Linked DNA regions of Homo sapiens: all the other regions are linked to region 3. Evidence: fine-mapped expression QTL. A gene starts in region 3. Each other region holds a variant in brackets. All regions are shown on one strand. Distances are from middle to middle.

Region 1 (8,187 bases), 63 kb before region 3:
TGCTGCTTTTAAACATCATAATTTATATCCCCCCAAAAAAAGATTTGAAATGTGCCCCAGTAGAGGTTATGTACACAAAGAATTCAGAGGAGAAGAAGATAATTGCACTGGGAACAGAGAAGAATAAGTGACTACAAATGTTTATGGAATCTCATTCTGAGCTTTGTGAAAGTCAAAATAAAATAGCTCTCCTCTGATCAAAGGAGAACTATTCACTAACAAGAAGGCAAAACTGAAATTAACTTATCAGAGAAATGTATTGGAAAAACAGTCAAGTAATTAGCATAAGATCAACCAATCATTAATAAAATAAAAAAGTAGTTTCAGTGCCATATCACCCAATTAATTAAATACTAAAATACTTTCATTTCAAAGTGTAAAGTGTATATTTTTCCATTAAAATCTCTGAAATTAGAGCATGTCTTAAAATTGATAAATTGTAGTGTAATTAGCAGCATTTTCTTTTTCTTAGGTGTATATAATATAGCAGTGCATCTTATAATTGACATCTTGCAATTATATATGATCCAATGGTAGCAAATTTAATTACCTAATGAATGCCAGTGGGTATCAGGTAAAGTACTTCTTTACAGACCTTTACTTATATTAGCTTCCTCCCTCTATTAGTTATAAACTAAAAGACACACACACAAAAGGTACATCCACAAGGCACCCAGTGCTCTGAGATTCATTTAAGATGACTTGGGAGTACTAAGCATACCCTGGAGTATGCTTTGGGACTCTTCTAGGCAACTTCATCAAAAATGTTATCGCACAAAGTGTATTTCCTTTGCCTTCTCTTAGTAATGGGACAGGAAAAACACTGGCAGCCCATCTCTACTATTTCAAAGACCCCTATCTACCTAGCTCACATTCTGAGACCTTCTGACATAACTCACTGTCCCTCCCAAGTTTACAGGGTCCTTGTTAGAAGATATCAGTGAAAACACTTCAGTTTCATGGACCTTTGAGACAGCAGCAGGAAAATTTGTGCTTGTATATGTAGAGGTAGAGATAGAGATAGAGATGGTGGATGTAGAGCCAGACAGATCTAGAAATAGACATAAGCATAGACATAGACATAGACACAGACATGATCTTGATTGTAGGCCAACCATTTGATCTGTGAGCTTAGAGAAAGGAAAGGCATATGGTATTCCTTTTGCATGTCAGTATCATGATTTTGACTGAGAATATTCTCTGCAAACATTTTACAAGTATTAGATGTATGCAAATACACTTATGTTTCTTCCATAGTAACTGTGTAAGTGCCATAGATTTATTTTTGCACATAAAATTCTGAAAGAACTCCAGGGACTATTTAATGTCAAGTCATGGAAATATACAGAATATAAGGATTACTGAATCACGGTCAGTGGCCCTAAAATGTGATAGCATTAAAAGGCACAAAAATATAAAAATATTTGTCTCCAACTTTCCTTCTCATTGATTTTAGCTTAATGCTTTCAAACACCTTTAGGAGTTGAGTGTCTATCTTAAACATAAATTCCCATGCTTTTTTTATTGGAAAACACTATAATTGGCTAGCCACAACATATAGCATAAATTATTTCAGGCCCAGCAAAACTGAATAACATATTTTCTTTCAAGAGCTATTTTGACTCTATACTGCATTTATAAAGTGCTGTGCACTTTCAAGCTTCCGTTGTTTTGCTTGAAAGTATGAGAAAATCTGTAAGCGTTAAGAACAAAGACACTGAAGCCCTGGATAATGATATTACATTATTATATTGCATGAATGTATTTATATTCTGTTACAAATAAACACAAAGAATATTAATTTTCCTAATATTGAAACAAGTTCATTACCGGCTATAAAGTGGTAAAGAAGAATTCAGCTTATCTTTAAATCCCACTTTTAAATTGCTACATAATAGCTAAAACTTTATTTTTTTGGTTTTCTTTAAAAACTAAGAGATTTGTGATTTTTAAAGACTCAAATTTGTCTTCAGGTAATATCTGAACACTTTTTCTTTGCTCTGTACTTATGTAAACCTGATCTACAAATCAGCAGAATTGGGGTTTCATAGGCAAAGGTTAAGAAGATAAATGAACAGGAATACTATTCCTTTTCCAAAAGCATACAGTTGAAACAAATGCATTTAATCATATGTAAATTTTAACTGATTTCTTAAATAATTCCAAGTATTAACTTGAAAACATAGATAATTCCAATAAAGTGTGTTGCTCTAACTTTAACTTAATATTTTATAAAGTTATTTATATTTAGGAAAATGCATTTGATCAGACTTGAGGTTTTATGAGTTCCAGGAAATGCAAAGTGTCCCTCGAGCCATTTAATTAACTTTTAAAAATATTTCTTCCATAAATTAGATCAACAGTAAATAAACTCATACCTCAAGACTGAAGGTTGTGGTAAAAATTGCAAATATACTATTTTGAGTTGTTTTTAAAACTTGCAAAACGAGCTGATAAAAATTCTTAAGAAAAATACTTTTGACCTGATGATTTAAAAGCACACAAAATATATAAAATTATTTCGTAATTTTTAAAAAGGTGAAAACTCTAAAGTAGGCAATATTTCAAATGTTGGGAATATAAAGATCTGTATACAAGTGTAATTTTTCCATTTTTAACCTTTTCTCAGACCCTTTTTTGAAACTAAAAAGTTTAATAGAACACCAATTTCATTTTCACTAGCAAACTTAAGATTTTCCAATTATTTCCTCTGCAAATTAGCATACTCATTTCCCGCATAAAAATTTAAGAAATCACTTCAAAATATTTAATATTAGGATATTTGTTGCCATTAACTTGGTAGCTCAATTTAACAACTCTAAATGATTTTATATAAAAAATAGTCGAAGCATTTTATCCAAAGTATGGCATATAATTCATGAATTCACCTGATAAGAGCTTTTTCTCCAAAGTATTCTCCTTTCTGCAGTGTTTTTATCAGCTGTGGTTGATCATGGCCTTCTGTGCTCTGTGTTACTTTTACCTAAACAATGTTAAGCAATACAAACAGAAAGAGACTGAAGAAAAAGGAGAATCTGAACACACATTCATTCAACCAAACCCTCTAGACCTATATAAACTTGGACAAGGAAAAAGACAATACTTTGTTTTAATTTTATGGTAATTAGGACAATTACCTACATTCAGCCCATTTTGATGGATGTGGGAAGTCCTATGGTCTAATATTATCAAATAACTACCCACTGTAAGAGGAAAATTCACCATCTAAACTCCACCTCCTAAAGTTAAATTTTAAATGTGAATCCAGTGATTCCTTCTGAGAGATCCACAAAGCAAATAATAATGGTCTTGTGGGAACTTTTTCTATTTTAAAAAGCCTAATATAGTTGACAAATTAATCAAAAATAAGGTTGAGTATCAGTAGTTCTGAGTCTGGTATCAATAGATTGACTGGCCGAATCCTGTGCACCTCCTAAAACTGAATGCAAAATGTTGATTGAAGAAGGGTCTACAACTTTCATGGGCATCTCAAAGCAATCTGTTGCCCAGAAAGGCTTAAGAACCCCCCACCCAGCAGGGCCAAACAGAAAAAGCCCTGTTTGTGGCTAGAGTTATTCCAATTCAACATGGTAACAAGTGCTGATTCAGGCTGAATAGAAATTCTGTTTGGCATTTATGTATGTCACAATGAATTAAAATTTTAAAAATAAAAAATGCAATTTTTTATCACCAAGAATTATTTCAAAGTATGGGGTCTAGGTTGGGAAAAAATGACAAGAAGTAGTTCCTAGTGTTGAAGAGTTTCAGAGGTTTGAAACTATTTTGTTCATGTTTTTCCTTCACTTGGGGCCAAATTCAAAGTTCAACCACAATCCAGTTTACAAATGGCAGTGCCTGACTCCCTGATGGTAAACCCTTCCATATAACATATGTAAAAATCTGACAGTTTATACACACAGGTGCTCAAGAATTGGCCCTTCCCTTCAATATTTCACAAATGCTTTTCATCTCTGAGTAATACTGTTGAGTCAACATTGGAACAACTGGCAACATGTTATCCATTCAATATCTAGGTAAAGAAAAAGACTTATTGTACATGTTAGTATAAATTTTGCATCAGCATCTAAATTCACTTGAGCTGTTTTGTATCAATTGAAATTCTGAGCCATATTGGTTCTATAAGCCTGATACCTAATCATGACTGTCTTCAATTGCTGAATTCATTCTCCACCTGCTACTTGTCATATCTATTGGATAAGAAAATATTCTAGTACTGATCTTGGAATCTGGGGATGATTGAGAATCACATAGTCATAGCCAGAAGGGACCTTATAAATAATCCAGCCATCTCATATACAATTAAGCTAGGTCTCTCCCCAAAAAATCAAGTGACCTACATAACATCACTAAGAAGTTATTATTTCTTAGGGGGTCCTGTGGCCTCCACTCCAAAGCCAGTGTTCAAACAGAATTGCATGGGACTCTACTGGTAGAAGCTCCTTTATCTGTCCAAAGTGGAGGACCTATGTTGCAATGCAAAGCATAGTTGAGTTTATGGCAAACTGATTTAAAATAATCTTTTTTATTTAGTAAGTTTTAATTAATAGTTACCTTTCCTTTTGCCAAAATGAAAAAGGTACTTCCTTCCTCGCCCTCTCTAATGATGTAATCTCCTTTGTCATAGTATTCCTGTTGGGATGAGAGAGAAAGAAAATGTAAGAGCGGGTGGAGCCAAGATGGCCTAATAGGAACAGCTCCAGTATACAGCTCCCAGCGTGAGCGGCGCAGAAGACGGGTGATTTCTGTATTTCCATCTGAGGTACCGGGTTCATCTCACTAGGGAGTGCCAGACAGTGGGCACAGGTCAGTGGGTGCGCGCACCGTGCGCGAGCCGAAGCAGGGCGAGGCATTGCCTCACTCAGCAAGCACAAGGGGTCAGGGAGTTCCCTTTCCTAGTCAAAGAAAGGGGTGATGGACAGCACCTGGAAAATCGGGTCACTCTCACCCGAATATCGCGCTTTTGGGACGGCCTTAAAAAAACGGCGCACCACGAGATTATATCCCCGCACCTGGCTCGGAGGGTCCTACGCCCACGGAGTCT[T/C]GCTGATTGCTAGCACAGCAGTCTGAGATCAAACTGCAAGGCAGCAGCGAGGCTCGGGGAGGGGCGCCCGCCATTGCCCAGGCTTGCTTAGGTAAACAAAGCAGCCAGGAAGCTCAAACTGGGTGGAGCCCGCCACAGCTCAAGGAGGCCTGCCTGCCTCTGTAGGCTCCACCTCTGGGGGCAGGGCACAGACAAACAAAAAGACAGCAGTAACCTCTGCAGATTTAAATGTCCCTGTCTGACAGCTTTGAAGAGAGCAGTGGTTCTCCCAGCACGCAGCTGGAGATCTGAGAACGGGCAGACTGCCTCCTCAAGTGGGTCCCTGACCCTGACCCCCGAGCAGCCTAACTGGGAGGCACCCCCCAGCAGGGGCACACTGACACCTCACACGGCAGGGTACTCCAACAGACCTGCAGCTGAGGGTCCTGTCTGTTAGAAGGAAAACTAACAAACAGAAAGGACATCCACAGCAAAAACCCATCTGTACATCACCATCATCAAAGACCAAAAGTACATAAAACCACAAAGATGGGGAAAAAACAGAGCAGAAAAACTAGAAACTCTAAAAAGCAGAGCGCCTCTCCTCCTCCAAAGGAACGCAGTTCCTCACTAGCAACAGAACAAAGCTGGACGGAGAATGACTTTGACGAGCTGCGAGAAGAAGGCTTCAGACGATCAAATTACTCTGAGCTACGGGAGGACATTTAAACCAAAGGCAAAGAAGTTGAAAACTTTGAAAAAAATTTAGAAGAATGTATAGGCCGGGCGCGGTGGCTCACGCCTGTAATCCCAGCACTTTGGGAGGCCGAGGCGGGCAGATCACGAGGTCAGGAGATCGAGACCATCCCGGCTAACACGGTGAAACCCCGTCTCTACTAAAAATACAAAAAAAAAATTAGCCGGGCGTAGTGGCGGGCGCCTGTAGTCCCAGCTACTTGGGAGGCTGAGGCAGGAGAATGGCGTGAACCCGGGAGGCGGAGCTTGCAGTGAGCCGAGATCCCGCCACTGCACTCCAGCCTGGGCGACAGAGCGAGACTCCGTCTCAAAAAAAAAAAAAAGAAGAATGTATAACTAGGATAACCAATACAGAAAAGTGCTTAAAGGAGCTGATGGAGCTGAAAACCAAGGCTCGAGAACTACGTGAAGAATGCAGAAGCCTCAGGAGCCGATGCGATCAGCTGGAAGAAAGGGTATCAGCAATGGAAGATGAAATGAATGAAATGAAGCGAGAAGGGAAGTTTAGAGAAAAAAGATAAAAAGAAACGAGCAAAGCCTCCAAGAAATATGGGACTATGTGAAAAGACCAAATCTACGTCTGATTGGTGTACCTGAAAGTGATGGGGAGAACGGAACCAAGTTGGAAAACACTCTGCAGGATATTATCCAGGAGAACTTCCCCAATCTAGCAAGGCAGGCCAACATTCAGATTCAGGAAATACAGAGAACGCCACAAAGATACTCCTCGAGAAGAGCAACACCAAGACACATAATTGTCAGATTCACCAAAGTTGAAATGAAGGAAAAAATGTTAAGGGCAGCCAGAGAGAAAGGTCGGGTTACCCTCAAAGGGAAGCCCATCAGACTAACAGCAGATCTCTCGGCAGAAACTCTACAAGCCAGAAGAGAGTGGGGGCCAATATTCAACATTCTTAAAGAAAAGAATTTTCAACCCAGAATTTCATATCCAGCCAAACTAAGCTTCATAAGTGAAGGAGAAATAAAATCCTTTACAGACAAGCAAATGCTGAGAGATTTCATCACCACCAGGCCTGCCCTAAAAGAGCTCCTGAAGGAAGCACTAAACATGGAAAGGAACAACCGGTACCAGCCACTGCAAAATCATGCCAAAATGTAAAGACCATCGAGACTAGGAAGAAACTGTATCAACTAACGAGCAAAATAACCAGCTAACATCATAATGACAGGATCAAATTCACACATAACAATGTTAACTTTAAACGTAAATGGACTAAATGCTCCAATTAAAAGACACAGACTGGCAAATTGGATAAAGAGTCAAGACCCATTAGTGTGCTGTATTCAGGAAACCCATCTCACAGGCAGAGACACACATAGGCTCAAAATAAAAGGATGGAGGAAGATCTACCAAGCAAATGGAAAACAAAAAAAGGCAGGGGTTGCAATCCTAGTCTCTGATAAAACAGACTTTAAACCGACAAAGATCAAAAGAGACAAAGAAGGCCATTATTTAATGGTAAAGGGATCAATTCAGCAAGAAGAGCTAACTATCCTAAATATATATGCACCCAATACAGGAGCACCCAGATTCATAAAGCAAGTCCTGAATGACCTGCAAAGAGACTTAGACTCCCACACATTAATAATGGGAGACTTTAACACCCCACCGTCAACATTAGACAGATCAACGAGACAGAAAGTCAACAAGAATACCCAGGAATTGAACTCAGCTCTGCACCAAGCTGACCTAATAGACATCTACAGAACTCTCCACCCCAAATCAACAGAATATACATTTTTTTCAGCACCACGCCACACCTACTCCAAAATTGACCACATACTTGGAAGTAAAGCTCTCCTCAGCAAATGTAAAAGAACAGAAATTATAACAAACTATCTCTCAGACCACAGTGCAATCAAACTAGAACTCAGGATTAAGAATCTCACTCAAAACCGCCAACTACATGGAAACTGAACAACCTGCTCCTGAATGACTACTGGGTACATAACGAAATGAAGGCAGAAATAAAGATGTTCTTTGAAACCAACAAGAACAAAGACACAGCATACCAGAATCTCTGGGATGCATTCAAAGCAGTGTGTAGAGGGAAATTTATAGCACTAAATGCCCACAAGAGAAAGCAGGAAAGATCCAAAATTGACACCCTAACATCACAATTAAAAGAACTAGAAAAGCAAGAGCAAACACATTCAAAGGCTAGCAGAAGGCAAAAAATAACTAAAATCAGAGCAGAACTGAAGGAAATAGAGATACAAAAAACCCTTCCAAAAATTAACGAATCCAGGAGCTGGTTTTTTGAAAGGATCAACAAAATTGATAGACCACTAGCAAGATTAATAAAGAAAAAAAGAGAGAAGAATCAAATAGATGCAATAAAAAATGATAAAGGGGATATCACCACCGA
Region 2 (8,187 bases), 41 kb after region 3:
AAGGGATGAAGTTTATTGAGATTTTACTCTACAAGAAGCATGGGAACAACAAGGACGTAATAATCCAGTAGCCTTGGTTTCCCTTTTAATGCAGACAGTGTAGATGGGGAATACAATCTTTCCCCTAGAAATCAAGGCAGAGATTATTTTCAACAATACAGAAAAGCTTGCTCTCTAACGTTTTCTTATTCCATTTATTATCTCCCCTCTATTTTGTTTCATTCATTTCTCTATCTCCTCTGACTGTTTGCCCATAGTCTATCTACATGCTCAGGACTCCAGAATCCATTAACCTGATTTTGCCTCATTCTACCTCCTAACATTTTCTAGTCTTTTATACATACAAGTGGGGATTTATATGCAATTGGGACTAAGTGGGAGAAAGTTGATAAGAAAGAGTAGGAAATTCAAAACGCTAGGTAGGAAATCTAAACTCTGCAGAATCAGGATTAAAGATTCAAGCCTAGATCTAAGAGAGGAGGCAATGGAACGAGTGATGGAGTAATGGCTGAAGAAGAGGCCAGGTAAAGGAAAAGAGTGGTCAGAAGACCAAATAAGAGACAATGTCTTCAACTAAAGGTACAAAGAAACCTAGTATAAGGCCAGGTATGGAGGCCATACAGGATTGCAAACGAGGTACTCCAACTTTTACATATACTTTTAGGGTGAGCCCTTAAAATAGTAAGTTCCCATTGAACAATGTCTATTTTTTAAATGCTACAATTAATGGATCAATGCTTCTAAAGCTTTTTGTAATTTGATCACAGTCTATGTTTTGGTCAACTATCTTGGTCATATATTCCTAGTAAACTACTTCCTCCTTCACCTTTCTGTAATTTTATTCATACTATCCTTAGTCTAGATAGAGTGTTGTCTAATAGAACATTTTCTGTTGAGGGACATGTTCTATATCTACATGGTCCAATACAGAAGCCACTAGTCATATATGACTGGAGACTAATATATTGGACAGCACAGGTCTAGAATCTTCTTTCCTATTTTCAAATCTGTTGAAATTCTACTCTTTCCTTTCAATGCCCATCACTGTAGAGAACGCAGTCAATGTTTCACCCATAGCCTCTCAGATCTCTTTTACCACTGCTGTTTGTGTTTCTCCTGGCCTCTCAGCTTGTGCTTCTAATAGCTTGTACCTATAACTCACTTCACAGGACTGTCCTGAAACTGCTGGAGCCATTGTGCTCATAGAAGCAGAGCTCAGAGGGCCTGGGAGTTTATGTCCTGCCCCCTCTCCCCAGCCTCACCCCAGGGCAGCCCTTAGCCCCTGACTGACTGGTACAGGAGCATAAAAATCAAGCTCACTTTCCTTTGACTCAGGCCAACCCTAAGGTAAAACTCAAAACTCTAGGGTCCTCCTGCAATATCAGGCTAAAACTGCCTCTCCAGGACTTTGCCTGAAATCTCACCCTTATGCTTGGCTTCTTTCTGTTCCCTGTTCTGCTTCACCCCTTTCCTTACTAGTTTCTTCTGGGAGCACTTCTTCGCTTGCACATGAATCTTCATATCAGGGTCTGTGTCTAAGACAAACTAAAATGCTAATTCATCTGTGAAGCTTTGATTGGGAACCTCAGTCCCCAATCAAAATTAAGTATAGCACTTCATTTATATCTTCATATGGCACCATTTAAAAGTTAGACAATTATATTCATGACTGGTTCCCTGTGAACTGTGTCCCCCTAAAATTCATATGTTGTCCTAACCCCCAATGATTGTATTTGGATATAAGACTTTTAGGGAAGTACTTAAGATTAAATGAGGTCATAAGCATGGGACCTTAATCTGATATGACTAGTGTTCTTAAAAGAAGAAGAGACACCAGAGATCTCTGTCTCTCTCTCTCTCTCTCTCTCCCGCCTCCCTCTCCCTTCCTGTCCCTGTGTACCCAGAGAAAAGGACACAGCAAGAAGGAGGCCATCTACAAGCCAGAAAGAGAGGCCTCACCAGAAACTGAATCCGCCAACACCTTGATCTGGGACTTCTAGCTTTTAGAATTGTGAGAAATGAATTTCTGTTCTTTAAGCCACTCAGTCTGTGGTGTTCTGTTAGTTATGGCAGCCTGGGCAGACTAATACAGTCCCCAACTAGAATGTAAACTCTCAATGATTAAGAATCATGTATTCTCCTGCTCAGTGTCTTGTATGTTAAAGGTTCTTTAAAATGTTTGTTGAATGTATTGACTATAAAGGAAAAAGTGGACATAATGGTTTTTCTGATAATTTTTTATAAAAATATTGTATGATTTAAAAGTATTAAAGTTGTAGAAAAGAGAGTTTGTTGCCATGAGGTATTTATCTATTGTACTACAGATTCTTTACATACTCAGTAGTGATGGCTAGTCATTCTTTAAGTTGAAAAAAATTAATATAAAAGTGACTCACATACTCACTGACAAAAACAATGATCATACCTGCTGATTTTTATGAATTCTTCAAATTTAAGAGTCTTTAGAAACCCAATTAGGGATAACTCAGATGTATGATTGAGCTGAATCAGTGACACACATACAAAAGAAAAAAAAAGCTATATCCCTCCCATCCTTTGTTGATCACAAGTTAGTAAAACATGAACCATGGTGAATATCTTGTAGTGACTTAGAAATGTATAGTTGAAAGCACTCAATAAATACTTAACAGATGAACAAATATGCTTAACACAAGCAATAAAACAGGTCACAGAATAGTACTTTTTTTAAATAAAAAAGAAGTATATAGTTATATAGTAAATAAAAGAAAAAAATTAAACAAGAATCTTACAAATGAATGACTCTGAGTGGTGACATTTTTGGATGTTTCTATTAACTTCATCATAATTTGTTAGCTTTTTCCATGTTTTCTACAGTAAATATATATAATATTTGAAACCAGGAAAAAACAATATTTTTAATCCTCTAGCCACATCCACATCTTCCAGCTCTGCCTACACCAAAAATCAGCAACAGTAATCAAACAAAAAAATTAGGTTTGGATACGGGGAAATAAAAATGAAAATAACAGTTATTTTACTCATTGAGATGCCATTTACAATTCAATCCATTACAGAGTAATCAGCTTCTGAAAGCTTGAGCTTATGAGTCAGGCAAACCCAAGCACTAAGCTGTTATGATAAAGATGTAACCAAATACAAACCATGTGGAGCCAAGATGATTGTACAACTTGATTCTTTCCTTAGCACTCCCATAGAGCCCATGACCTGATGACAAAGGGCACTGATGATCAGAAATAAGTAATTCAGAGAATCTGTGCTGACCCAATTGCTCAGATTTCTCAAGGAAATATCCTAACTTTTCTCCTTTAGAAATTCACCTTTGGCAATAAAATAATTGGAAAAAATAAACCTCACTTCAACCTCACCACAGGGAGAGAGGGATGGTCTGTAAGGCACAACATTTTTAGGTAAGCTTAGTATTAGCCTCTGTCTAAAATTATTTGAAATGCTTAGCAATATTTATTTTTAAAATATATTTGTCTTTATATCTGTATATTATACATATAATAGCCCTGAGAAATTGGTAGGGCAGATATTATTATCCCTAATTTACTAAGATAGAATCTGAAGTCAC[C/G]TTCCGTCCCCTTGAAGCCTAGCTGCATTTTGAGCACTGTCCTTTTGACCTTGTATTCCAAGTGCATTCCAGCAGGTGTGGGCTTAAACACCCGAGGGATGGTCTGTGCACTTTGCAAGCTGAGAGGAAATAATATTGCTCTACCACTTCAGAAAACTGTTGAGTGCCCTGATCTCCTGAGAAATTCTCCCAAGTGTTTAGCAGAAATGCCCCACCCGTGAGTGCAGAATGGAGCCATGTGCCCCCGACTCACACTGTGGCCCTGCTTGCTCTTGCACCACCCATCCATCTGGGTGGTCTTCAGGGGAAGCCCTCAGAGGAAGACTGATTGAAACCAGAGTTGCTGTGCCACCCACACCAATTCTAGTTTCTGAACGCAGCCAGCTGAAGCATATTCGCTATCCTAAAATAATAAAAACAAATTAATGGAATTGACTCAAGGGAAATCAAGTTCCACTTATAGGCCTAGTGGCAGAAACAGCTGTTAAAATTCATTAAATTGGAAGCTCCTGTAGTAGCTTCTTAAGAATATTTTTCAAAGTCTTTGGACCACTACTATAAAAGACCAAGTTAAACATTATTCATCAGGAAGTGTTTTTGTGGAAGGACATGGAATGCATTTGGAAATCTGCATAGCATGTAAGATTGTGGCTGGATCATTCGCAAAGTTTGTATTTCATTAAGCTTTGATAGATAAGCCTGTTGTAATTTGAAAAATTAAGATCAATCTCCGCATTAAAAATCCCCAAAGCATTTCCACTGAGTATGAATTTCCTTATCACAGAACTTTCTATAAGATATTTACAGATTTTGACAAGTCTGGCTATGAATTCTACAATAAAACTCTTAGTTAATAATGGCAACGATTTAAAATCTAAAATTTTTTTTCAAGAGTTGTTTATATACCTTTTCTTCTTTCAAAGGTATTTCTATGCTGTTAAAATAATTGTACTTTTTGTCTACATGAACTATCTTAAGAATTTCTATGTCAATAATAAAGGAATGTGTCTGATAACCAAAAAAAAAAAAAAAAAGTAGAGTTTGGATTGGATGACATCCAAGGACTTCTTTGACTTTTGATTCTAGAAACTAGAATTCCAAGGGTGCTATTCACATCGGTAGCAGCCAGCTCTCTAGATGCAGAGTTAAGGCCAACCAAATTCATTCTGCAAGAATTGAGGATGCCAACACTGACAATTAAGTTCCTAAATGTATCCATTGAGGTGGTTTGATTACAAATGTCAAAACTCAAATCTGACTAACTACAGGTAAAAGGGAAATAATTATAAGGTCCTGGTGGGGGCTCCCAGACCCAAAGGGAAATCTACAAAAGCAGAAACCTAAAAGGACAGGAATCAGGGCATTTGGAGGATCTAGGTAGCTAGTCTTCAGGATATTGCAAGAGGACCCACTGGCTCCAACCATTTTTCTTCTGCTCTTTAACCACTGGGCTCAAGAGCCTGGGGGGATAGTCCATTGTTTATATAGTGGATTGATATTCAATATCCATTCTGCCCTCATCTAGAGTCCCTTCAGTCATCGTTAAGGCCAGAAAGCTAAACATTATATTCCATAGTCTAGTTTGCAGACAGTGTTCCAGAAGGTACTTAATAATATTCAGCTAGTCACATGTGTTCATGTGAGATCAGAAAGGCAGAAGTGAGGTGGAGGCCACATTTGTGCTGCTTCTGCAATTTCTGGTGCAGAACATAAATGGCAAGGTGGTTGATTTTTCTGCAACAGCTTTAGCTGAAATCCCAGTAGCTAGCCACTTGTTAGATATTGAGAGGATGGCATGGGTCATCCATTTTGTTGGTGCAGTCCCAGCAGGCATGTCATGGCTCTGGGGCCAACAATTGTGGCCATGGTTTCTTATCTGTCAGTCACAGCTAACATGCATATTTCTGGTACCAATGATTACAACGACAATCAGAAGTTGGCATCGTGGTTCCCACTTCCGTGGCTTCCTGATGTTAACAGTTCTCTTTGCAGACTGTTACTTGTTATATAACAATTATTTTTTTCTGCAAATAATTACTGGATACTCCATTCTCTGTAATAAATCCCCTTCTGCTTAAACAGGTAAATAGTTCCATTTTAGTCCAATTGGCCATCATGGCTCATATGCCTACCCCTTGGTGGGGCTGATTGGCAGCCCCACCAAGATTGGCAACCCCATCAAGTACACACAACGGAAGAGGGAAAATTTCCCAGAAGAAAATAAGATGCTCTTATCAAAATAAAAGGGAAAATTGACTGTGAGTGGCAGAAAATAACAACCAACCATCCTGTAAATAAATACAAAGATAATTAATCAACATCATTTTCAGGGTGTCTTGTAGGCCCATTACACAAAGCAAAGTTTTCTGAAGTCCTGAAATATTACAATACATTATGAAAGCTTAACTACCCTAAGGCAAGGAGTCAGGGAATGCTTCAGAAAAAGACATCTGATCTCAGTCTGAAGGATCAAAGAAATATGAAGGTCTTTCTAGGTAGTGGAAAATTCATGTCTTAATTGGCACTCTGTGTCTGTATGTGTGTGTGCACACATGCTCACGCACATGTGTGTTGAGTATCTAAATAAAGATTGAAGAGTGGATTAATTAGTAAAGAGGAAAGTTTCATTTTGAGCATTTCTCTCACTAGCAGTTGTACATTTCATAGTAGGAAGGAACCATAAAAAGGCATTGTAAACAATCAAGACACTGTAGATTCAGGTTAGCTAGCCAGAGATTCCAAGAGCCCATACCCAGAGGACACACAGAAGCAGGCAGTTGCCTACCACTACCCTTTTAATTGCCCTATGCATTCTGACCTCCTTAGATAGAAATTGGATTTAACACCTGAACATGTTCCAAATGTCAAGGTTCATTATCCATGGACTTCCACATCATATGACTTTTTTTTACAACTTCCCAACATTCTTCCCTGGGCTTAGTTTTCCTCTCATAGTCATGGTCACTAGCTCATGGATTAGCTCCTGGAGATGCTAGGTTTGGGCTTCCATTTACTCCTACTTTCCCAAGAGAAGCTAGACCCCTATTATTTCATTCTCAATGCCAGGTAAGGGTATAGCTTTATTTCTATCCTGATCTGTGACTTTGCTATTTTTCTCACTCAGCCATTTCACACATTGAATTGAACTTTTACCTGCATTGAAAGTGCTATTGAGACAATATTGTCACAGTGACACTTTGACCCAAACTCACACAATCTGTTTTTATGTGTCACCTGGTAGCACCATCAAGAGCAGGAAGGGAAGGAAAACCAACACTAATTGAATTTCCATTATATGTTACATATGTGTCTAAGACCTTTCCCATGTGTTATTCATTTCATATAATTTATACAGTGGTTTGTGTCCCAGAGTCAATCATCCTTCAGTCTATGTCAGCACTTCCCAGGGACTTGCTACAGCAGAATTCAGCTTAATTAACTACCTTCCTTTCAGCAATGTCCTCTCTCCCACTCAACCTGCCTTTTAATCCAGGTGACTCTCAAATGCCATCTCCTCTGCCCTTCCTTTTACCACAGCCATCCTCAGAAACCACTTCAGTCCTACCTCCCTGCTTTCCTAGTCTTTTTCTTTCCAATCTTTCTACAGTGAAGCTTGAACCCCAGCCCCAGTGTTAAGCCAGCTCTAAGTAAAATGTACCTATCCCCTCAGATACCAGTACTGACCTCACAGAGAGGAAGAAATTACGATAGGAATCAAATTTCAAACATTCCTACCACTTTTCTGAAACTATGTCCACCTGTTTTGAATCAGTGTCATGTATTAAGCGAATGTGATTCTTCCAACAGGATAAAAATGAGTAGATGTTACCTATCACACAATTTTTCAAAGCTTTTCTTCTCTTCTTGACCTTCTACATTTTCTTTCCAAGTAGCAAGAGGAGTACTAAAAGATAAGGTTTCAAAATATGATAGAGTATTCCTCAAAAGATTAGGGAGTAAAGATAAAAACGAATAGTGATGAAGCAGCGCTGAAGAGACCTCTGTGCGCTGCTGAAAAAAGAGAAGAGTCGTGACTTCCCTATGTACAAGCTTCTTCATGCACAAACCCACCCACAAATTTACCATTTACTCTTCTCACACAGCATTTAAAAGTCTCATGTGTTGCATTGCCTCCATTTTTCACACACTGAATTCCTAAGCATAAAAGCTTTTTTAAAAAATCTATTTTTGCAATAGAATTTCTGATATTAGGTGCCGGATCAGGCTCTGTCTTGTAAAACAACTATGGCGATAGCCAAGTGGGAAAAGAGTGCTAAGTTCCTGAAAGAACCGTGAGAAGTGGAGTCCAGACACCTTTCCAGGGCTTGTGGTGTTAGTACAAGGCATTTCTACTTCTCTCCTCCCATCCGGCAACACTATGAGATGAGAAATAGGAGCCAGATAGAGTTCGCTTTTAGGGGAGTACAGTGGGTTTTTTAATAAAAAGAAACTATTTCCTCCCTGCAGCTCCCCCTACTGGAAAAAGGGGATTTTTTCCTCCCTCAATCTTGTGGGTAGCCCCACAAGATTTCTGGTAGGATTTAGGGTGACGGCAGGAAGTGGAGACTGATGTTTCATTCCCTAGTTACAGTCCTGCGGAGGAACTGGGC
Region 3 (8,187 bases):
AAAGAGCTTAGAGGAAGTAAGACAAGGGAAGATACTATTGCACCAATCCAAATAGGAGGTGATAGTTTAAGGATTAAAGCTCAGAGTCCCAACACTATTTAATGACTTGAACTTCTTGAACTCAAGAAAAAAATTGACCATCTCCGTGGTAGCCAGAGAGAAAAACATTGCCATATGAGATTCAATAAAAGTTACAGCTATATGTAACACTGCAATGTCCTTCCCTTCAATAAATCATGGAAACCAGAATTGATTTTTTAATGATAATGGGCAGTTCAGCTGGAAATCAGAGGAGTGAATTATACAGACTTCTACAGATAATATTCTAGGTGGATAGGAAACTGATACATTTGATGTTACCATTAGCTTGTCTCTCTAAAGTTCCTTTAGAAAATAATTGAATATATAAATCCCTGATTCTTCTCCCTGAAGCAAACCACACAGAGTTGTTGTCCTTGTGAGAAACAGCTCACTTTCACATTAATGCCACAATTAAAAGCATCTGTCCATCCAACCTTGTGACTGTTGACCCGGGGCTCAGTTTGGAATCTACTGCTTGTTTTCTCTGTCCACAGCATCCTGGCTGGAGAAAAACTTTCTCTTGACAGGAAATCATATGACCTTGTTGTACCAAAGTTGCAGCTACTCTGGAGGTTGGTTATCTCTTTAAAGTGCCTCCCTCCCACCCCCCCAGCAGAATGTTCGCGGTGAATTTTATGAATGCCACTATCCTATATTTGACTGCCAAATTCAGCTATTTGGGGGGCTACATTAACAGATAAACAAGCAAACACACAGAAATGTAGGTCTGTAAGTCTAGGTCAGAAGATTATAGCTGACAGAATTTTTGAGTGGTGGCAAGAAGAAAGACGATGAGGATTTGAAAGTTTATACTGTGGCAACTGGGTAAAAGGTAATGTCATTGACCAAAATGAGGAGCAGATTTGAGGGATAGGACAGTGAGTTTAATTTTGGATATACTCAGTTTGAAGCACCAGTGGAAACTTTAAGTAGAGAAGTTTAGTGAGCAGTAAGAAATGAGGGACAAGAAAAGCTAAAGAAAGAGGAAAGCTGAAAATATTAAGCAGTTATTGATACATAAATAGAGGCTGAAGTTGATGAATTGGAGGCAAGTGCCCAGGATATTAGCGATGAGGAGAGGAGAGTGTCTAGGTCTATATGAGGTTGGAAAGAAAACTGTAAGATATGGTAAGAAGGTACTGCTTTGGTTAAAGTGAGAGAGGATGTGAAGAGATTAATATTAGAAGAGGGTGAGTAGGAGGAACACTGCAGGATAGCATCTCTAATGTAGTAATTAAATGGATGTGCATGGGAGGGCAATCAAAATGATTTCAATGTTTTGATCTTAGGAGGCTTGAAGGAAAGTATTACTATCTACTCTTCATTCATTCAGTCATTCAAAAAGAACACATAGGGCACCGTGTATGGGCTAGACACTGTGGCACTGACAGAAGTCAGGAGAATGAGCATGCTTTGAAAAGACAGTAATGAGTCTGGATTTACATATATTGAGTTTGAGATGCTTGTGGGTCATCATGATGCAAATGTCTAGCAGGTAGAAGCAAAAAAGAAAACTCAAGGGAAGAGATTGCTCCATAGAAGACTTGAAGTACCATTTGTAGATGAGATCACTAAGGGAGGTAAGAAAGGAATGTCTCTATTGTTACCTATGAACATATAGGTAATATCTGTGGATATTATTTGTGGGAGAAGAGGAGGAGAAGCAAACCACAAAGGAGAAGGAACACGTGTACCAATAAGAGATTTAGGAGAAGCATCAGAAAGGCCATGCAGATAAGATCCTTAAGAGGTGAGCAGGCTGTACCTCACATCCCACAGGCCTGTCACAGCAAATGAGATCAGAGAGAAAAGTGCTGAATCTGATTTGTCAAAGAGTGGGGATAGACACTCAACTACAAGGGACCATGGAAAGAGCTGACACTAAGAGTAGAGCCTGCAAGACGATATCATGATTCATGTGAGGGATTTTTAAAATAATGAAAATTTGAAAATGTCTGTAGCTCCAGGATAATGAAGCACAGGAGATATGAAAAACGAAAACATGGGAGAAGAAGAGATAATTCATAGGAAAAATAGCCTAGAGGAAGCAAGACAATAAGGGATCACAGGACTTGGGCAACAGCCAGGCAACATATGCCTTCACTGTGAGGTGAATTCTCATTAGCCTCACTTGTAATGACTTCATAGAACTGGAGTTAAGGATTTCACGTAAAAGAGAAAGATCCCTGGGCATCATCTTTTCAGGTCGTTTATTCTTAGTCATACAGCGTTCCAACGGAGAGGATGCACTCTAATTCTCCATAGAGAATTCTCTACCATATTAGCTCATACCCTCCTGTGCAAAACTAAACAGGAGTACTGAAAACAGCTAGTGTATGTTATGTGGGATGATCGCCTTCTTCATGAGTTAAATAGAAACTTGCAAAGAAAAGAGACAATTTCTAAGAAACTCTAAATATGGGGGTGTGGTGGGGTGGGGGCAGGTGTATGTTGCTCTCTTCCTTAAAAAAAAAAAAAAAAAGAAGGAGAAGAAGAAGAAGGAAAAAGCCCCTGGGAACTTGGGGAACAAGATGAAGATCAGGAAATCAAGGCATTTGTCCCAGCGTCACCCTTCCTACCTACTAATTCTGCATGCGTTGCTTTTATTGTCAGCTCTGGCCTCAGCTGCTTCGTAGTTGCACCGTAGTTCTTCTCAGAACTGAACCTATTTCTTTTTTTCTCATCCCCAAAGTGGCTGGTTTCTGGGCTTTGTTTGCTCTTGTTTCTTCATCACCGAGAAATACAGAAATATGAAAGCGCCTCACGGTGCCCAGAGTGACAAAAGGACACCCACACAAGTTTACCAGGACTCCTAAAAGTCCTTGCCTGAGGACTGTCCCCTAGCAACTACCCAGAGCTCGACGAAGCAAAGCCGGGAGCGCAAGCCCTGACAGCACCGCCAAGCCCCTAGCTCGGAGCAACAGCCTCCACCGCTTCTCCTCGCTAAACCTAGAGAACCCTGAGGACTCCCCACTGGGGCTGAGCCCCTCCCGCCCTCAACAGAACCTCTAAACACAAGTAGCCTTTCCCTGCCTCCAGGAGCTCACGAAACGCTGCCACACCGAGCGAATGCAACGCGTACACACGTCCACACTCGAACAGCACAAGCAAGAGACCGGCTGGGTGTGGAATAGAGGCGCACATCGCGCAACGCATTCACAGCATGCACACGCGCGCACCCCGACCCCGTCCCTCCCCGCGCGCCCTCACACCCCGGCGCCCAAGACCCCCGGCCCACGAACCTCACCAGACAGCCGGGTAACTTTCCAGGTGCGCAGCTTGTCACCTCGGCGCGGCCGCCCCTGCGTCTCAGCGTCCTCTCCCACGCCGCCCTCCCCAGCCGCCTGCGGCGCCGGAGCCCAGCGCAGGTCAGCTCAGCCAGCCCCGCCGTGCACACGGTGCGCAGCGTGGGCCCGGGGCTGCCGGCTCAGTCGCTCCGGCTACGTGTGAGCCGGGGGCGCGGGTTAGCGCGATGCGGGCAGGAGCTGCGGCGGCGTCGGTGCTGCCGCCTGGCTCCGCGGCGGGGGCCGGTGCAGAGGAGACACGCAGGGAGGGAGGGAAGAGAGGAGGGAAGGAGGAGGGAGGGGGTCAGCCGGGGCTACTGCCTGGATAGTTGGGCGCCGGCTTCCCTAAAGGTGGGGTCACCCGCGCCCGCACGCACACTAGCCCGAACCTTTACTCCCGACACAGCCGCAGTCTGCACTTTATACCCCATACCCTCCATAGTGAGGCAACTTAAGTAGGGCGATAACATCGTGGTTGTAAGCATTTTTGTTCATGTTATTATTTCTATTTCAAGTGTGTGGGACGAGGGGAGAGGAAAGTTCAGGGAGGTGTTCATTTTTTCCTTCCCCTCCCTTTCCTCCATCCTTCCAGTCTGTTTTCACTGCAGGCTCTCTCCACTTCGCCTTCCCTCCCAGAGCTCAAACAGGCGCACGTACCCTGGACATGCCCTCCTCTGTCACACCAATGCCTTTCTACGAAGACATGTGACCCCGAAGCAGCTCGTCGACGCGCCCCTCCCGGACTCTGGGGCCATAACTTACATCTAGTTTGCCAGTTCACGTGATGCTGGGGGCAGGGGTTGAATCGAGTTTCGAGGGACAGAGATTATACCTTCCGAATCTGCAGGTCTTTGGGAAGGGAGCTTTCTTGATCACCCAAGAAGATAATGCTCTCTCGTCACCTTTTGAGTACATTTTTTTTTCCTGAAGGGTGCAATATGGTTTCCTAAATATATATGTACACCCCACCGCATTATTTGCTGTGCTCTGGAGTTGTGAGATCTCCATGTGGCTTTTTCCCTTTCCTTCTGCCCCCAGAGGAATTTCACCAGCAAATTCACGGAGGACAAGGGCAGTTTCTGTGTTGAGAGATGGAAAGTATAGTGAGGGTCTATTCCTCACTGTGCATCTAGAGAATGTTACAACCAACTCTCTTGGGTTTTTAAACCACATGGTGGCAGTGGGGCTCATGTAACATTTGTATACACTGTTACATACATAAACTTATATTAAAAATGAGGCCCATGTAAAATATGTTGAATGAGACCATTAAGTTTCAGAGGAGGAGGAATATAGTCCTGTTTGTTTTTGTGCTAACTGGAGGAAAATCGCGAAAGTACACAAAGTACCTTTTCATGAAGCTATCCCAGAGTCTGTACATTTTATAAAGACCTCAAAAAAAAAAAAATTAGAGGAGAAAGGAGTGAGGAAGAATTCCACAAGAAAAGAGAAAATAAGTAATTGTATGTCACTGTAATAATGGACTTTTAAGTTGATGGGCTGAATTTTTATTAGCGATTTAATGACAAAAAGGAGAAAAACAGATTTTCAAAGTCTTCACTTTAAAAAAAAATTTCAGATTCAGGGGTACAAGTGCAGTCGCATTACACGGACATAACACATAGTGGTGAGGTCTGGGCTTTTAGCGCACCTATTACCCTAATAATGTGCACTGTACCTAATAAGTTGTAATTCCTACCTCACCCACCTCCCACCCTCCCACCTATTGGAGTCCCCAGTGTCTGTTATTCCATTCTGGATACTCATGCCTGCCCATTGTTTAGCTGCCACTTATAAGAGATTCTGCAGTTTTTGACTTTGTTTCTGAGTAATTTCACTTAGGATAATGGCCTCTAGTTCCATCCATGTTGCTGCAAAAGATATGATTTCATTGTTTTTGTGGCTGGGTAGTATTCCATTGTGTGTGTGTGTGTGTGTGTGTGTGTGTGTGTGTGTGTGTAGTACCCCTGAATCAAAAAAAAATTTTCCCAGTTTTTCAGGTGATAGGTACACAGTGTATGTGTGTGTATACCACCATAGTGTGTGTGTATATATTTTGTATATATATATATATATATATATGTGTATATATATAATATAAAACCACATTTATAAATCCAATCACCCCTTAATGGACACGTAGGTTGACTCCATGATTTTGCTATTGTGAATAATGCTGCAAAGTCCTTACATTTCATTGAGTCCTGGGCTTTTTTAAACAATGGGTTGCTAATTAATGGATTATAAAATTGATGTACTGGGTCAAAGCCAGCATTTTTAAAATGATACCAAATAGAATAAAAAATAGCAGAGTATGCACGCACACTGGGTCAACTGGGTCATATGTACTTTCTTACCGTTCATTGAGGTAAAAGCTTGAAAGCTGTCGATGCAGTGCAGGCTGTTGCCCAGGGTCACCCAGCTAGGAAGAGTTTGAGGGGGAACCTAAGTTCCCTCCCAGCAATCCTATGCTCTGTCAAATCTACAACTCTACCATGCTGAACAAGGAAACGGAGGAAGAGAAGGAAAGTGACCACTTTTTGAGCTTTTAATTCAGTCTTTCAACAAATGTGCTTTCAGCAGCTCCTGCATCTCAGGCCCAGTGCTAAATACTTAGAATTCAATGGTGAACAAAATTAACTTGTGATCTCTGCCAACTTAGAGTGTACAATCCAGTGAGAGAAACAGACATTAAATAAGTAAACACAAAAGTAAGCATATGTGGGAGAAATACTGTGAAGGAAAATGAGAGAAAAAAATATGGGGTTATAATTTAGATGTGGGAGGCTGCAATTAATAATTAACCCAATTTAGAATGGCTTAAATTATAAGGAAACTTACTGTTTCACAAGGCAAGAAGTTCCAAGGTCAGGAGGCTCTAGTTGGTGAATTCAGGAACACAGTTGTGTCTGGGAAGGCCCTGGCCTGTTCCCGTTATTCCCCCTGCCATTCCCAGTATGGCAGCTTTGTCCCCTGGGGCTGCTCCACCCATGGCCCCAGGATGACTGGAACAACTCCATTTATTATGGGCAATCCCAACAGTGCCCAAAGGTCACAGAGATTCTCTTTTCCAGAGTCGGGAAATCGTTCTTGGAAGCTTCCAGGAGACTTCTCACCTGTCATTAATCCAAACTAAGCATGTGCTCACACCTAAATGCTGGAGGTGGAGGGGAGAATCACCATTCCCAGCCTCTTAGGCTCTGCAGGACTGGTTCCTAACTCTTCCCGATTGCATTCTTTGAGAAGTGCATACCCGAATAAAAAGGAGAGGGTGGCAATGGATGCTGGGTAGGCAATCTAGAGTCTGCTACAGGGGCTCAAGAATAATGTCTCTCTGGAAAAAAAAAAAGTGGAGGGCATTTAAACTTAAGATGAGTAAGAGTGAGACAGGGAGTGAGGAGGAAGCACCTTCAGGCTGAAGGAATCTGGCCTGTGATGTTGGACTCTGTGTCATGAGTTAAAGGCTTCCATGTAATTTCTCATTTACTCCTTTGACCTGAGGAGGTAAGCACACCTGAGGAAGGAAACTCAGAGAGTTAAGTAACTTTGATCAAATTCACAGAGCTAATAAGTTGCAGAGCCAGTCTATATAATTCCAGACCCTAAAATCTTGACTTCTTCTACCTGTACAAAGACAACGAGAAATTAAAATCCACTGGCCTTTCTTTGCCATTGACTGAAGAACACAGGCCCCTCAGAGGCCCGTCTGCAATGTTAATCTAAGCACATGGGCGATGTGGGACATACTCATGACTAATCCTCCTCCTACTAGGTAAGCCTCTGCTCCACTAGGTCTCCTGGTCTCTGCTAAGCACTGTCACCAGAGCACCAGAGTTCTCACATTGTCAAAGTTCAGAGGTAGCCTATGGAAATGGGGATGATAAAAGGCCTGTCTTCCCTTGTTTTATACACAGAAAAGTCCCCAAGCAGCCCAAGTGTTTCACAGAAACCTCCCGGTTTTGCCCACTTTCTGTTTCTTGCAGGGACCTGCATCCAAGAGGCTGAGCTAGGAAGAGATCCAGTAATGTTTCCATACTTAATTCAGACTCCCAAGCCCCTGGATGACTCAATTTGAGTTCAGGATCATCCCATGCCAATCTTATTTTCTTGGGATAAATTTCCACACAGGAGGCTCTATAGTTACCTTTGCACACAGACTCCTGTCAGGGCACCCCATCAGATCAGCCTTGTGCTCATAATCTTTAATTCCAGCTTGGAGCCCTCCAAGGCCCAACTGAGGTCCCTTCTATGGATCAGCAGAAAATCTCCTGGGGACATAAGAGGGACAAAACTCCCATGCTGGTGATTCACACTCCATTTTCTCACCATGTCTTTGGTTTTCTTTCCTTCCCTCTTTTATTCTTTCATTTATCTTCAGGCTTCCTTATCCTACCACACTAACTCCATGAGCAGCCATTTCAGTTGCTAAGGCTAGAACCTCAAGTCATAGTGCCCTCCTTTCTGATTGGTTTTGCCAAACCCTAGCCAAGAGAAAATCCCATTTGCCTTTGATGCTTTTGTTGTCCAGGTTCCAGCATCACTCAATATGGTTATAAAACTGGGCCAATTGGATCCACCCAAATTTTCATGTTATCTAAGCTCCGTGCAGCCCACAATCCCTTTATTTACCTCAATACCTCTTCCATGAAGTCTTGCTGACCATGAAGGATAGTGCTTCTCTCCCATGACCCCACAGCAACATGGTGCTCCAAGTTACAAATCCTTGTTAACTTGCCAATCTCCCTTATTAGACTTCAGAGCAGGGACTTTGTTGTATCAATGCTTATATCTCCAGAACATACCCAGCTCAAGTCTCTTCATT

Which allele goes with the higher level. Alleles are on the strand shown, and positions count from the first base shown. SD is a standard deviation of normalised expression in the study named. Not every link is listed here.
For the expression in tibial nerve of the gene that starts at base 3,615 in region 3, allele G in region 2 goes with a higher level than allele C (moderate effect, 0.48 SD a copy in GTEx).

Evidence for each region.
Region 1: its variant is fine-mapped to the expression of PRKG2 in blood mononuclear cells (TOPMed, PIP 0.92).
Region 2: its variant is fine-mapped to the expression of PRKG2 in tibial nerve (GTEx, PIP 0.94).

Annotation. Positions count from the first base shown.
Region 1 is chr4:81,149,072-81,157,258 of GRCh38, forward strand. PRKG2 (protein kinase cGMP-dependent 2) reads right to left here. Exons shown (of 19, transcript NM_006259.3): 7 at 4,573-4,650; 8 at 2,889-2,983. Among named protein-coding and RNA genes, the nearest start is that of PRKG2-AS1, 12 kb to the right of the region's middle. RefSeq lists enhancers at 4,393-4,907, 4,908-5,421. The variant T/C (reference allele first, on the strand shown) is at 5,063.
Region 2 is chr4:81,252,572-81,260,758 of GRCh38, forward strand. No RefSeq gene overlaps it. Among named protein-coding and RNA genes, the nearest start is that of PRKG2, 41 kb to the left of the region's middle. The variant C/G (reference allele first, on the strand shown) is at 3,578.
Region 3 is chr4:81,211,608-81,219,794 of GRCh38, forward strand. It overlaps PRKG2 (protein kinase cGMP-dependent 2), which reads right to left and starts at 3,615. Exons shown (of 19, transcript NM_006259.3): 1 at 3,329-3,615. LOC124900726 (a long non-coding RNA gene) reads left to right here and starts at 3,279. Exons shown (of 2, transcript XR_007058162.1): 1 at 3,279-3,351; 2 at 3,958-4,617. RefSeq lists enhancers at 2,647-3,147, 3,148-3,648.